Homo sapiens: one gene and its partners. The protein of the gene in region 4 interacts with the protein of the main gene of each other region in a biochemical or structural test. Each region holds a gene or a part of one and is shown on either strand. Other genes may lie near its edges.

Region 1 (3,500 bases), on a different chromosome or scaffold from region 4:
GGTTGAACTAGTTTACAGTCCTACCAAGAGTTTAAAAGTGTTCCTTTTTCTCCACATCCTCTCCAGCACCTGTTGTTTCCTGACTTTTTAATGATCACCATTCTAACTGGTGTGAGATGGTATCTCATTGTGGTTTTGATTTGCATTTCTCTGATGACCAGTGATGATGAACGTTTTTTCACGTGTCTGTTGCCTGCATAAATGTCTTCCTTTGAGAAGTGTCTGTTCATATCCATTGCCCACTTTTTGATGGGGTTGTTTGTTTTTTTCTTGTAAATTTGTTTGAGTTCTTTGTAGATTCTGGATATTAGCCCTTTGTCAGATGGGTAGATTGCAAAAATTTTCTCCCATTCTGTAGGTTGCCTGTTTACTCTGATGGTAGTTTCTTTTGCTGTGCAGAAGCTCTTTAGTTTAATTAGATCCCATTTGTCTACTTTGGCTTTTGTTGCCATTGCTTTTGGTGTTTTAGTCATGAAGTCCTTGCCCATGGCTATGTCCTGAATGGTATTGCCTAGGTTTTCTTCTAGGGTTTTTATGGTTTTAGGTCTAACATTTAAGTCTTCAATCCATCTTGAATTAATTTTTGTATAAGGTGTAAGGAAGGGATCCAGTTTCAGCTTTCTACATATGCCAGTTTTCCCAGCACCATTTATTAAATAGGGAATCCGTTCTCCATTTCTTGTTTTTGTCCGGTTTGTCAAAGATCAGATGGTTGTAGATGTGTGGTATTATTTCTGAGGCCTCTGTTCTGCTCCATTGGTCTATATCTCTGTTTTGGTACCAGTACCATGCTGTTTTGGTTACTGAAGCCTTGTAGTGTAGTTTGAAGTCAGGTAATGTGATGCCTCCAGCTTTGTTCTTTTTGCTTAGGATTGTCTTGGCAATGTGGGCTCTTTTTTGGTTCCATATGAACTTTAAAGTAGTTTTTTCCAATTCTGTGAAGAAAGTCATTGGTAGCTTGATGGGGATGGCATTGAATCTATAAATTACCTTGGCCTGCCCAGCTTTTAAAGCCAGCTTCTCTGGAAAGTCTTTCCAGGATTCTGTAGAGGTTTTCTTCTTATTATTTATTTATTTACTTGTTTTTTTCTGAGGATTTCCATAGCACTTTCAAAATTATCCTGTTATAGAGCACCTGACTGGCTTGAAACTACGCATTTCCATATGTGTGTCTTCTTTAGGGTGTAAGCTTCTGGGCAGTGATTAACGCATTTATTTTTCATTTTCTCCTCCCAAAACAGGTAGTGAACATTCTACATAAATGCTCTTTGAATAAACTCACTTTTGGATGTTGTATGGGGATGGGGGAGTGGAGGAGGTAGTTCGTAGGTATTTGGGGCTCCCAGGAGGAGGACAATATCATATACTTGGAAACGTAAGGCTTGCTTTTGAGGCTGACTCTCACTTTTTCTGTGAGTCCTGTGGACAGTATTTAATTGCCTCTGTCTTTGTTTGTTTGCCTGAAAAGGAAAAACTAGTTTAATGCCAATTTATTTGGTTGGCTGGAAATAAAAACTTCTGATTCCTGTGTTTTTATAACACAATCTAATTGTGGCATTGGCACCTAAAGTATTATTTTGTATTAAAATTAATTGCTTTTTAGAAATATTGGGTAAAGTCCATTTTGTTTAAAGTTCCAACCCTTTCAAAAGCTATAAAGTCCAAATGAGATTGGAACACCAGGAAGACAGGGGGAAGAGTCATTCTGTTACCTGGTTTTCTCCCCTGCCTGACTTCTGACCTGAGCAGAGGCCAAGGGGGTGCACTTGTGTGTGAGTGTGTGCACATGTATTGTGGCTGCAGGGTAGATATTGATGGGAAATACCACATACTGACCAGCACCTGAGTGTTGAAAAGGAATGGAAGTGGGGACATGAGATGAAGGAAGAGGAAAGATGGAAGAAATCAGAAGTAGCAGTTTGCAACTAAGAGCAGTTAAAATGTAAAGATGAGATTGATGCAATAGTTCAGTTCATTCAGAACTATTGAAACTATTGATTCAATAGTTCAGACAGGATGATTAAACACACCTACACACACACACACACACACACACACACCCCAACCTAAGTTCATGCTTGCTTCACCCTGAGTCCAAAGCTCTTATGCTAAGGTTGGATCAAATCCAAATTTATTTGTGTCTCTGTCTTACCCAGTTTACCCAATTCTCTCCATCTTTAAGTTTCTTTGGTGCCACCTTCTGGTTGGCCCAGTTCTATGAAGTCTGAATATTCCTTCCTGCCTCCCAGTCTCTGAAATGTCCTCGAGTGAAAGATGAGGTTGTGGAGGACCCCGGGACTTGCCTGCACATACTACTCTGCCTTCCAACATCTGCAGACCCTAGTATAAGCTCTGGAGAGGTCTTATGATGTGAGGATAGTGAGAAACAGGAATATTTTGTTCCATAATAAACAACCTCTTAAGTATAGAGTACTGTTGTGCAAATTATGTCATGATTGTGTTTTCTTGGTTCACATTTATTTTACTTAGTTTTCTGAACCCTAACCATAACCCTAACCCTACTTGTTTTTTTCTGAACTGCACTAACATTTATTTTAAACTTTAAAGAATTTGCACTGCTTTAGACTGTTGTTCTATATTTAGAGTGTTGCCTTTACACTTTAAAAAAATATATAAGCTCACTTTTTTGTTTAAGTAAGAGACACCCTTCTGTTGAAAAATATCTTAGGAGGAAGCGAAATATCTTAGGAGGAAGCAAAACATCCAACAGTGAAGATACTTTGGTTAATACAGTTGTTCCCCACTTCCTTGTCTCAGCCACTCAATTCCCCTTTCCTCCTGTGCTCTAAGAGACCCAGAAGACCTGTCCAAGACCCCCACTAAGGGCATACAGTTTCAGAGCTGCTGCAACAGGCACTTTGTAGGCCGCTGGGAAACTGGATGAGGCTCCATCTGTTTATAGAAATGAACACATGCACGATAATTTATATCTCTAGATAGAGTTTCCAGGACTTTTCATTTTGCTCATTTGCTAATTTTCCAAACTGGAGCATATTTTTCTTGTTTGACTACATTTTTCAGTTAAAATTATACATGTTTATGAAAAAAAGGATAATATAATAGAAAAAATATCTGTAGGATCATGAGATTATAGATAATGATTTGTCCTTTTATTTTCCCAAATGTTCTCAATTGTAAGAACAAAAAGGCTGAGGGAAATTGAGATGAGTTGGTGAACTGCAATATTTTATGAAATAGCCCACGTTTTTATAGGGTTTAATAGATATAAACAACAATGTAGGACTTATAATAATGCACTAAAATTATAATAATAGTAAACTGTAATAGCTTTTTAGCACTTTAAGCAAGGTGCCCCCCTAGATTAGGCTCCTACCTTCCACAGAACTGGTTGATAGGGATGCTATCTTTCTTGATGATTACATTTCAAAAGGATGGCTTCCAGGTCTTTGAGAGACTGTCCTGGGATGTAAAACTAGCAAGAAGCTTTTTTAAAAGATTTACATCTCAAAGGGGCTGAT
Region 2 (3,500 bases), on a different chromosome or scaffold from region 4:
AACTTATAGCTTGTTGCTCTTGGTTCCAAGGAAGGGCATTTGTGACATTTTATTAAATTCATTAATTTTTTAGACACACCATTGTCAGCTTGAACAAATTTATTAATTGTAATTATTTGTCAGCTGTTCTTGATCCTGTTAATACCATACTTATAACTAAAAGCATTTCCATGGATGTTGTAACTTGGCCTGTAAAAAAAATGTTTAGATAGAAACCATGAAACTCAAATATGAATTGTTTAATTTTCAAACCATTTTGCATTCAGAAAATGTCCTAAGCTTAATTCATACTCCTAGTGATCAAGGAAACATGTTAAAGCTCCTTATTTTTAAACTTAAAGTGACAATGACATTTTCAAAGATTTTAAAATTCTTATAAACAGGTTAAAATACTTATATACTGTATAATTTGATTTCTGATTTCTAAGCTCTACTTTTCTATTGGAAATTACAGATTTTTTTCAGACTTAATTCTTAAGATGTTTTCATTGTTTCACAGTAGCAACTAAACATGTAGTAAAATGATTTAAATTCAATTAAAATTTTTTTCCTTAGTCATTTAAAAGGGAAGAAATCAATTTTTAGTAGTACTCATTCCAAAGATTCCAATTTTCCTTTTTTTTAATCTTTTATTTTTTGGTGGAGGGAGGCAGGATCTGGCTCTGAGGCCCAGGCTGGAGTGTAGTGGTTCTGTCTCGGCTCACTGCAACCTCCACCTCCCAGGCTGAAGACTCAAACCATCCCCATGCATCACCCTCTCAAGTAGCTGAGACTATAGGCACATGCTACCACACCCAGCTTATTTTTTGTGTTTTTGTAGAGATGGGGTTTCTCCATCTTGCCCAGGCTGGTCTTGAACTCCTGAGCTCAAGTGATCTGCCTGCCTCAGCCTCCCCAAAGTGCTGGGATTACAGGTGTGAACTACCACACCGGGCCCCAATTTTCCAATGAGTGATATAAAAAAGGCCTCCACGCAGGCGCCTGTAGTCCCAACTACTCCGGAGGCTGAGGCCAGAGAATGGCATGAACCCGGGAGGCGGAGCTTGCACTAAGCTGAGTGCTGCTGCACTCCAGCTTGGGCGACAGAGCGAGACCGTCTCAAAAAAAAAAAAAAAAAAAAAAGCCTCCATGATTGGGGCTTGCATAGTGAAGACCATGTGAAATTGAAAGACTACGAAACTACTTTTCTTTTACGTATTGGCCCATAATTAACATGTGTATTGAATAGCTTTGTTTATCTAAGTTCATCAGATTTATCCAGGTTTATGTATTTCAGATCATCTGATTTTATTAGGAAAATGCTAGAAAAATTTCATGGCACCATTGTCTAATTTTGAAAAAACGAACCTTTCTTTACTGTGATTAAAAATTGTTTTTTAGGCCAGGTGTGGTGGCTCACGCCTGTAATCCCAGCACTTTGGGAGGCTGAGGCTGGCAGATCACGAGGTCAAGAGGTTGAGACCATCCTGGCAAACATGGTGAAACCCCTTCTCTACTAAAAATACAAAAATTAGCTGGCGTGGTGGTGCACACCTGTAGTCCTAGCTACTCAGGAGGCTGAGGCAGGAGAATTGTTTGAACCTAGGAGGCAGAGGTTGCAGTGAGCTGAGATCGTGCCACTCCAGCCCACCCTGGGTAACAGAGCGAGACTCCATCTCAAGGAAAAAAATGAAAAATTGTTTTCAAAAATAGTACGTGTGGTACAGATATAAGTAATTATATTTTTATAAATGAAACACTTTGGAAATGTAGCCATTTTTTGTTTTTTTATGTTTATTTTTCAGCTATGGGTGGATAAAGCATGAATATAACTTTTCTTATGTGTTAGTAGAAAATTAGAAAGCTTGAATTTAATTAACGTATTTTTCTACCCGATGCCACCAAATTACTTACTACTTTATTCCTTTGGCTTCATAAAATTACATATCACCATTCACCCCAATTTATAGCAGATATATGTGGACATTGTTTTCTCAAGTGCTAATATAATAGAAATCAATGTTGCATGCCTAATTACATATATTTTAAATGTTTTATATGCATAATTATTTTAAGTTTATATTTGTATTATTCATCAGTCCTTAATAAAATACAAAAGTAATGTATTTTTAAAAATCATTTCTTATAGGTATGTTCACATACGATGAATCTACAAAATTGTTTTGGTTTAATCCATCTTCTTTTGAAACTGAGGGTCAGTTTACTCTGATTGGCATAGTACTGGGTCTGGCTATTTACAATAACTGTATACTGGATGTACATTTTCCCATGGTTGTCTACAGGAAGCTAATGGGGAAAAAAGGAACTTTTCGTGACTTGGGAGACTCTCACCCAGTAAGTTCTTTGTCATTTTTTTAATTCAGTCTCTTAGATTTTATTTAAATGCAAAAATTTAATTTATGTCAAAATTTTAAAGTTTTTGTTTAGAATCTTTGTTGATACTCTTATCAATAAGATAAAAATGTTTTAATCTGACCGAAGTACCAGAAACACTTAAAAACTCAAAGGGGGACATTTTTATATATTGCTGTCAGCACGAAGCTTTTGTAAGATTGATTTCATAGAGAAGTGTTTCTAAACATTTTGTTTGTGTTTTAGTGAAATCTTAAGAGATAGGTAAAAATCAGAGTAGCCCTGGCTAAGGGTCTTGGTAGTTACAACGAGTGTGCCTGCTCCTACCACCCCCACCCCCACCTTGAGACACCACAGAATTTCTCATAGAGCACAGTGTGAATTCTATTGCTAAATTGGTGGTATGGGGTTTCTCAGCAGAGAATGGGACATCACAGTGACTGACAATCTTTCTTTTATAGGTTGGAAACTATTTGGGGGACTGGAGGGATACTGTCTACACTTTTTACAATTTTTATTGATAAGATTTTTGTTGTCTTCTAAGAAGAGTGATATAAATTATTTGTTGTATTTTGTAGTTCTATGGTGGCCTCAATTTACCATTTCTGGTTGCTAGGTTCTATATCAGAGTTTAAAAGATTTATTGGAGTATGAAGGGAATGTGGAAGATGACATGATGATCACTTTCCAGATATCACAGACAGATCTTTTTGGTAACCCAATGATGTATGATCTAAAGGAAAATGGTGATAAAATTCCAATTACAAATGAAAACAGGAAGGTAATAAATGTTTTTATGTCACATTTTGTCTCTTCATTAACACTTTCAAAGCATGTATGCTTATAATTTTTAAAGAAGTATCTAATATAGTCTGTACAAAAAAAAAACAAGTAACTAAGTTTATGTAAATGCTAGAGTCCACTTTTCTAAATCTTGGATATAAGTTGGTATGAAAGCACACAGTTGGGCACTAAAGCCCCTTTTAGAGAAAGAGGACATGAAGCAGGAGATAGTTAATAGCTAAGTGTGGTTGTAGTATAAAGCAAGAAGCAGGGTGTTTCTTGTATTAAGCTGTAAGCAGGAACCTCATGATTAAGGTCTTTATCACAGAACAAATAAAAATTACATTTAATTTACACATGTATAT
Region 3 (4,144 bases), on a different chromosome or scaffold from region 4:
TCAGCTCCAGGTTCTGTGTTGAAGGCCTTGTCACAGCCCCTGTGCCTGAGGACAGCAGGGCCTTGTCCCAGCCCCAGGGAAGAGGGAGCGTCAGACGGAGGGCACTGGCATTCTGGGGCCTGGCGCCCACCTTCGGTCCTCCCCACCCTCTCTCCCTTCTGGCCTCTGGACTCCAGAGCCTCAGCCTCAGCACGCGCCCCCACCCCCCGACCCCTGCCGATGGGCCCTCCTCCCTCTAGCCCCGCCCACTCTTCCCCAGCCCCACCTGGTTGTACCTGGTTGCCCAACTTGAGGAGGGTAAGTGGGGACACCTGCTCCTGGTTCGGCCCGCTAGTTAGCTGCGGAAAGGAGCAAGCAGATGGAGACCGACCCTTCCCACAGGCCCCCCACCCTGCCCAAGCCACCAGTGAGACCCCCGGGACCTTCCCCCCATCACAGGCTCCTCACTCCCCAGTACCTGCCGGCCCAAGGGCTCCATGGCGCTCACAGGGGAGAACTGTGGAGAAAGGGATGAGGATAGGAGGTCCCCTCGGAGCCAAGCCCTCCCTCCATGCCAACGCCCCTCTTCTTCCCCCTCCACCCCACCCCACCTTGACTTCAGCCCAGCCTCACCACGGAGCAGGGGCCTTGCAGGCAGGACCAGCTGAGCACCAGGAGCCCCCAGAGCAGCGCCATGTTCCTGTGGCAGGGACAGAAAGCTCTGTTCCCATCTCACATCCCCACGCCCGCCAGGGAATCCTACCCACGCGATCACAGATAACGCCAAGTCCTGGGTCATGATTGCCAAGGGGAAGAAGCAGGCTCCAGAATCAGAACAGACCCCAAACACACGAGCAGCGGCTCCCACTCCTGCAGCTGGGACATCCGCCCTGGCTTCTCCCCCTTTTTAGTTTCTGGTGTTTCATATTTCATGCATTTCATGCACTGAGGGTGTTTTGGTGAATAGGAGGGAGATACCAAATCAAAAACGTTCTCATTCTACAAGGCCCTGCGCTGTGAATCAGATCTGTGTCTGAATCCAGGCTACCTCTTGCCAAAGGACCTCGGCATTTCCCGTAACTCCACCAGGCTTGGCCTTACCTTGTAAAACGGTGGCACAAGTCCCTCACTCTTCTCACATGCATGGTGAGGACCAAAATAAGACCGTCTTTTTGGGATTTTTTGTTGTTTATTTTTTGAGACGGAGTTTCGCTCTCGTTGACCAGGCTGGAGTGCAGTGGCAGGATCTCGGCTCACCGCAACCTCCACCTCCCAGGTTCAAGCGATTCTCCTGCTTCAGCCTCCCGAATAGCTGGGATTACAGGCATGCACCACCACGCCTGGCTAATTCTGTATTTCTTAGTAGAAACGGGGTTTCTCTGTGTTAGTCAGGCTGGTCTTAAACTCCCGACCTCAGGTGATCCTCCTGCCTCGGCCTCCCAAAGTACTGGGATTACAGGCATGAGCCACTGCACCCGGCAAAAGACCATCTTTGTGGCCAGGCACGGTGGCTCAAGCCTGTAATCCCAGCACTTTGGGAGGCCAGGGGCAGGTGGATCACCTGAGGTCGGGAGTTCAAGACCAGCCTGGCCAACATGGTAAAACCCCATCTCTACTGAAAATACAAAATTAGCCAGGCGTGGTGGTGGGCCCCTGTAATCCCAGCTACTCGGGAGGCTGAGGCAGAGAACTGCTTGAACCCGGGAGGCGGAGGTTGCAGTGAGCCGAGATCACGCCACTGCACTCCAGCCTGGGCGACAGAGCAAGACTCTGTCTCAAAAAAATAAATAAGACCATCTTTGTAAACCCTGAGTACAATGCTTGGCACTCCCCCGATGGCTGGGGTCAGCTTGGCTCAAGGCCACCTCTTCTGGGAAGCCTGCCCTGAAGCCTCCACCGCAGAGCTCCAACACAGAGCTCCTACCCAGCCTGCTGCATCCATTTAGCCTGTCTTTTTTTTTTTTTTTTTTTTTTTTGAGATGGAGTTTCATTCTTATCATGCAGGCTGGAGTGCAATGGCACGATCTCGGCTCACTGCAACCTCCACCTCCTGGGTTAAAGCGATTCTCCTGCCTCAGCCTCCCGAGTAGCTGGGATTACAGGCATGTGCCACCATGCCTGGCTAATTTTGTATTTTTAGTAGAGACAGGGTTTCTCCATGTTGGTCAGGCTGGTCTCGAACTCCTGACCTCAGGTGATCCACCTGCCTCAGCCTCCCAAAGTGCTGGGATGACAGGCATGAGCCACCACGCCTGGCCCCAACCCGTCTTTCTCAGGCTGGTCAGGTCTTGCCCACAAGGCTGGACATACCTGTGAGGCCCTGAGGTCTCACCATGGGTGGCAAGGCAGCCAGAGAGCTGCCTTTTGACCCAGCAGCAGAGCCCAGTGAATGACTCTGGCCAGAGCCACCTCTGCACTTAGGAGCATCACAGGCCTCTGCTCCAGGCTGGCTCTGGGAAGGGCAGGTGTTGGTCTCAGGAGGATAAGTCAGAGCAGGTCTCAGCTACCTCCAGCCCACCCCCATCTTGGGGCCAACCCTTCTGGAGGATCCTTTGGTCCCCCCGGCCCCACCCCCATCCCACACAAGAGCCCTTGGCCAGGGCCCCGACTCCGACCTGGGCATTAGAATCTTCTTGCCAAGAACAGGCTCCAGTTTTTCAAGTCCCAGAAGAGGCTGGGGAGTGACAGGCCTCCTGAATAAATCCCAGACCCCTCAGCCAGGGAGGCAGCTCCCTCCTCCTCTCCTACCCAAGGAGCAGGCCGAGCAGCCCCTCCCCTCATACCTCTGCGGGCTCCTTGCTGCCACACACAACGTTCCTCTGGCCCCACTTGGGTGCTCCTCACTCTCTGCCCAGGCTCCAGCTGGCCCAGCCCACCCCTCCCCTCCCACCAGGACCTTTACTCTCAGCCAACCCCTGTTCAGATTGCTTTCTCTTCTGGTAAATATTGACTTGCACATCCAGTTAAACATTGATCTTGAAGCCAGAAGCCCCTTTCCCACCAGGGCATCTAACCCTGAGGCAGCCACGCAGAACCCCCTATATTTGGGTCCCCCCCCCCGAGCCTGGAAAGAGAAAGTTCAGGAGGAGAGAGTTGAAGAGACTGGATCTGGCTAGCCAAGAGGGCGGATCCAGAAAGCACAGGAACCTAGCACTGTGTTAAGCCTTCCAGAGACCCCACGAGGTGTGGATTATCCCTGGTTCAGCCAGGCTCAGAGAGGCCATGTGACCTGCCCAAGGACACAGAGCTGGGCTGAGGCACATCCAGATTCTCACTCCCAATGTCCTTTCTTCTCCCAGAGAGCTGCCTCCCGCTCCTGAGGGGAGGAAAGGGGAAGCCACAAGAGCCTATGCAGAGAGCCCAGGATAGGAAGCCCACCCCCAACCTTCCAAGCCCAGGATCAGGTTGGCTGCCTTCAGACTGGGATGGAAGGCAGGGGGTGAGGGAGGAGAAATGAGAGGGACTCAACTTCTCCCACCGTCCTGCCACTCCAGAGCAATGTCTCTTTCCCCTACCCAAGAGCGAGGGTTCTGGAAACTGACCTGGGGCTGTATGAACCAGAAGCCTGGCAGCCCGTGCAAAGATCAGGCTGCTTCCCACCCTCACTGTCCGGCTCCTCACTCCCTGCATCAGGCTCCTTCCCACCCTCACTGTCCTGCTCCTCACTCCCTGTATCAGGCCCCTTCCCACCCTCACTGTCCTGCTCCTCACTCCCTGCATCAGGCCGCTTCCCGCCCTCACACCTGCTCCTCACTCCCTGCATCAGGCTCCTTCCCACCCTCACTGTCCGGCTCCTCACTCCCTGCATCAGGCTCCTTCCCACCCTCACTGTCCGGCTCCTCACTCCCTGCATCAGGCTCCTTCCCACCCTCACTGTCCTGCGCCTCACTCCCTGCATCGGGCCACTTCCCACCCTCACTGTCCTGCTCCTCACTCCCTGCATCAGGCCGCCTCCCACCCTCACTGTCCGGCTCCTCACTCCCTGCATCAGGCCGCCTCCCACCCTCACTGTCCTGCTCCTCACTCCCTGCATCAGGCTCCTTCCCACCCTCACTGTCCTGCGCCTCACTCCCTGCATCAGGCCACTTCCCACCCTCACTGTCCTGCTCCTCACTCCCTGCATCAGGCTCCTTCCCATCCTCACTGTCCAGCTCCTCACTCCCTG
Region 4 (4,109 bases):
CTTTGGCATTATTTCCAATTCCCTCTGGTTTCCATTTGCTTCCTCCCTCTAGCCCCCTGGCCAGGTCCGATTTCAACACCAAGTTTCTGAGCTTTTCCCATTTTGTCCACCGTCTCTAGAACATTTCTGCTTCTTTTACCTTTCAAAGAATCCAAACTTGAACTCTACTTACTCCTGCCCATCACCAGCCTGAGCTCAGAGTTGCTGAGAAGGGAAAGCACCCTCATAAGGAAGCTCCTCCTTTCCCTACATCATTAGACTTGAGCACAGACAGCATCTCCATTTCCACACTGCTCTGGCCAGGTTGTGCCTCAGTCAATTACACAACTGTGTCTTAGTAGCCTTGGTAGGGCCCAAATCAGGATATTCTCTAGGAAGATTCACTTTGTACTGAGCCAAGCATAATCTCACTGCATCGAAAATAGAAAATGATCATCTGATCATTCTGGTTCAGACTGTCAGCCCTGAGCAGGTGGGTCAGTTTGCATCACCTGAGTGCAGATTGCAAGGACAACAGTGAGGCTGCATAAAAAGAACCTATGACAGGATGCACATGAGAGAGACAAATGTCTTCACATTGAAGAAGGGGAGGAGTGCGCCATTGGTTTTCCATCCTCCAGAGGCACTGAGAAAGCTCCTACAGAAACTGTGCCCCCTCCTTCTTTGAAACACTTCCCATCCTTAAGCCTTGGTAGGAAGGAGAGAAATCTGGAAGCCCAGAATCCTATGGAATGCTGAGTCTCCCTTCTCCTTACCCCTTAGTGTTGGAATTTTCATTCCCCAAAATCTTGCATTTGACCTTCCTGCACACTGACTGGAGAGAAGCATCTTCATATTCACAGGAATGAGCCTTAGATAAGACTTTGCTCCTCTCATGTGGGCCCCAGGAAACTGAAATCCAAGCTTTTTACCAATGCTTGCCCTTCCTTAAGTACATTAAATACATTCCCAATAGGTGGAAAGATTTGTAAACAGCTAGGCCATTCTCCCTCCTTCTAACCCTCATCTCCAGGGCCTAAGAAAGCCCAGCTCTGTTATCTGGGGCTTGACTTTCCCTGTCTTCCCCATCCCAGTATCCTTGCAGGAAACAGCCGGTCTCGCTCTCTGCTCTCAGAAGGAAAGTTTCCTTATCACCTGTGAATCACAAACCCAGAGAGTGGCCAAACATAGCCAGGCTGATGCAAGACCCTGGGAAGAGGAAAGCTGCAGGTGTGTTTGTGCTGGGAGGAGTGGTGACCCTCACCTCACAGTCACCTCCTCTCTGGATCCTCGTGAGGTATAAAGACGAGTCCTCCACCACCAGTCAGGCACACTCTACCACCATGAATCCACTCCTGATCCTTACCTTTGTGGCAGCTGCTCGTGAGTATCATGCCCTGCCTCAGGCCCCAACCACCCCCCCGTTCCTGGCCGACAAATGCCCTTCCATTCTTACCACCTCTCCTCTTTTGACTGTGCTCTGATATTCCGTTTCCTCCATCTGGCATATCTCCTTCCCATCCTCCTTGGGCTCTTTTTAAGTCTCACCTGTTCACCTTCTCCTTGACTTCACTCCCACCACTGTCATTCATCCATATCCGAGTTGTGGTTGGAGAAGCTGGGAAGGGGGCCAGGTGGGGCTGTCCCACGAAATGAAGCAGCAGGCTTCAGGCTTGGCTCCAACAGCAACAGAATAGCACCACTATAGCTGCTCCTAACCTCGAATGCACCTGGGGAGGTTGAAAAATTACTCATGCCAGAGACTCAGCTCTAGAAATTCTAACTTCAATTGTCTGGGGTAGAGCTTGTGTTCTGGGCTTTTAAGCTTCCCAGGTGATTTTTAATATTTCCAGCCATGCAGCCAAGGTTAAGAATTGCTGTCCTATTGGCCAATAACAAAGTCTACCTTTGTTCTGCCAAAGTGAGCCTGGGGGCTGCCCTCAACTCTGCCCTGACTGCACAGATCTGAGCTATGGGGGAAGGTGGTCATGGCCAGGTCTATGCAGACAGGGGGTTTTCCTAGCTTGGCAAAAGAATCCTGACAATCCAGGGCCCAAATAGCCAGGGGAAGTACACAGGTGATGAATAAAAGAGAGAAGCACTCAGTGGGAGAGACAACCACATCCCAACTCCTATCCCACTGGAAGCATTGTGAGGACATTCCTTGCGACTTCAGCCTGGTGACCCCAGGAGAGCTCGGATCCTCCGCAGGGTACCTAGCTATGTGCCCTGCAGGCACAGAGACTTGGGAGCCACAGGCAGTGATGATCACCAGGGGTGGCAGAGCTCCCTCCCTTGCCTAGCCTCACTGTGCTTGTTAAGGATTTCTAATTAGCAGAAAGCAATCACAGGCTGGGAGCGCCACCCCTAACATGCTATTGACTTGCCTTCTCCCTTCCCATCTCCACTCCAGTTGCTGCCCCCTTTGATGATGATGACAAGATCGTTGGGGGCTACAACTGTGAGGAGAATTCTGTCCCCTACCAGGTGTCCCTGAATTCTGGCTACCACTTCTGTGGTGGCTCCCTCATCAACGAACAGTGGGTGGTATCAGCAGGCCACTGCTACAAGTCGTAAGTGTGGGGCCCCCGACTGCAAAGCTCCCGGCCAGTCTGCCTGGGAGAGCTTGGCTTCAGCCCAGGGAACTACTGAGGTTGGGTAAGATGGATGGGAGAGGTGGTGGAGAAGAAAACTTGTTGGCAGCTGCGGACTCTCCAGAGCAGAGAGTGAACACAAGACAGGAACCTCTCACACCCAGGCAAATCCATGAAACAGCAAGGGTTGTGGTCATAAAAGCAGGCAGGGATGATCTTGGGGTGGTGAGAGCTAGTGAGAAAAGCAGGCAAGTATCTTTTGCTGGTTAGCTACACATTAAAGCCAACTAAGAAAGACTTTTTAAAAATACAGATGCCTTTGTCCTATCCCAGGGCAATTAAGTCAAAATTTTCAGGAAGAGGGTGTGAATATCAGTGAGAATTTTACACTCTACCTCTGCTAACTGTAGAGTGTATAGACAGAGCTGAGAACTGCTGCCTACACCAAGAACTCTCAAACCTGAGTATGCATCAGAACGCCCTGCAGGCTTGTTAAGGCACAAATCACTGGGCCCCTTCCCCAAGGTTCTGATCAGTAGGTGGGGGTAAGGACCAAGAATTCACATTTCTAACAAGTTCCCAGGAGATGCTAATGCTATGGCTACCCTTGGATTAGATTACACAGAAGGGTGGTTCTCACCAGGCCAAGAATGGAGGGAGGAACAGGCACTGTGCACAGTTGGCAAAGGCCTGGGGTGAAGAACGCTGGGAAAACTTCAAGGAGCTCCTTGTGCCCACAGTGCTAGTGACTGTGGAGATTGTGGGAAAGAGTCTGGGGAGGCAGGTTGAGGAGCAGCCTCTGGTGGGATCCCTTTGACTCTTCCCCACCCCACTACCACCAACCTCTGGAGCAGATAGGTCCTGGGTCTCATACCTTCACTGACCCACATCCCTCTGCTGCCCATGCGATATGGCCACACACCCCACCCCATGCCTCCAGAGCTGTCCATGAGCAGAGAGCTTGAGGAACCTGGGGAAGGTGGGATAGGTGCCCTGGCTGTGGGAGAAGGTCTTCACCATGCCTGCCCTGCCCATCAGCCGCATCCAGGTGAGACTGGGAGAGCACAACATCGAAGTCCTGGAGGGGAATGAGCAGTTCATCAATGCAGCCAAGATCATCCGCCACCCCCAATACGACAGGAAGACTCTGAACAATGACATCATGTTAATCAAGCTCTCCTCACGTGCAGTAATCAACGCCCGCGTGTCCACCATCTCTCTGCCCACCGCCCCTCCAGCCACTGGCACGAAGTGCCTCATCTCTGGCTGGGGCAACACTGCGAGCTCTGGCGGTGAGTGGGACCCTTAGTCCTTCTACTTCCCTCCATCCTCACAATTTCCAGAACAAACCATGCCCCTTAACTTGAATCCTCTCACCTCCAGGCTTAAGACACATTTCGAGTGCCCATTACACACAGACTCTGCACTGGGCACCAGAGAGATGCAAACTATCAAGGACTTGGCTCCTAAAATCAAGAGACAGGACAAATGGAGAACTTGATATGATCACATCTTGGGAGGGGTTCAACAATGATC

What was found. The genes of interacting proteins can lie anywhere in the genome.
Region 1: the proteins of PRSS1 (region 4) and SERPINB8 form a complex in vitro, tested with the Homo sapiens proteins (one study listed by BioGRID).
Region 2: the proteins of PRSS1 (region 4) and UBE3A form a complex in vitro, tested with the Homo sapiens proteins (one large-scale study listed by BioGRID).
Region 3: of the proteins of PRSS1 (region 4) and SERPINF2, one has a biochemical effect on the other in vitro, tested with the Homo sapiens proteins (one study listed by BioGRID).

The regions. Positions count from the first base shown.
Region 1 is NC_000018.10:63,973,081-63,976,580, forward strand, and holds part of SERPINB8 (serpin B8), read left to right. Parts: intron 1-3,500. UniProt on the Homo sapiens protein: Has an important role in epithelial desmosome-mediated cell-cell adhesion.
Region 2 is NC_000015.10:25,355,525-25,359,024, reverse strand, and holds part of UBE3A (ubiquitin-protein ligase E3A), read left to right. Parts: intron 1-2,128; coding exon 2,129-2,334; intron 2,335-2,968; coding exon 2,969-3,133; intron 3,134-3,500. UniProt on the Homo sapiens protein: E3 ubiquitin-protein ligase which accepts ubiquitin from an E2 ubiquitin-conjugating enzyme in the form of a thioester and transfers it to its substrates.
Region 3 is NC_000017.11:1,741,527-1,745,670, reverse strand, and holds the start of SERPINF2 (alpha-2-antiplasmin isoform a precursor), read right to left. Parts: upstream 2,801-4,144; 5' UTR 2,763-2,800; intron 2,673-2,762; exon of another isoform or gene 2,603-2,672; coding exon of another isoform or gene 2,595-2,602; intron 1,338-2,594; exon of another isoform or gene 1,125-1,337; coding exon of another isoform or gene 1,081-1,124; intron 680-1,080; coding exon of another isoform or gene 676-679; coding exon 613-675; intron 497-612; coding exon 458-496; intron 339-457; coding exon 276-338; coding exon of another isoform or gene 266-275; intron 1-265.
Region 4 is NC_000007.14:142,748,163-142,752,271, forward strand, and holds the start of PRSS1 (serine protease 1 preproprotein), read left to right. Parts: upstream 1-1,309; 5' UTR 1,310-1,322; coding exon 1,323-1,362; intron 1,363-2,392; coding exon 2,393-2,552; intron 2,553-3,611; coding exon 3,612-3,865; intron 3,866-4,109. UniProt on the Homo sapiens protein: Has activity against the synthetic substrates Boc-Phe-Ser-Arg-Mec, Boc-Leu-Thr-Arg-Mec, Boc-Gln-Ala-Arg-Mec and Boc-Val-Pro-Arg-Mec. The single-chain form is more active than the two-chain form against all of these substrates.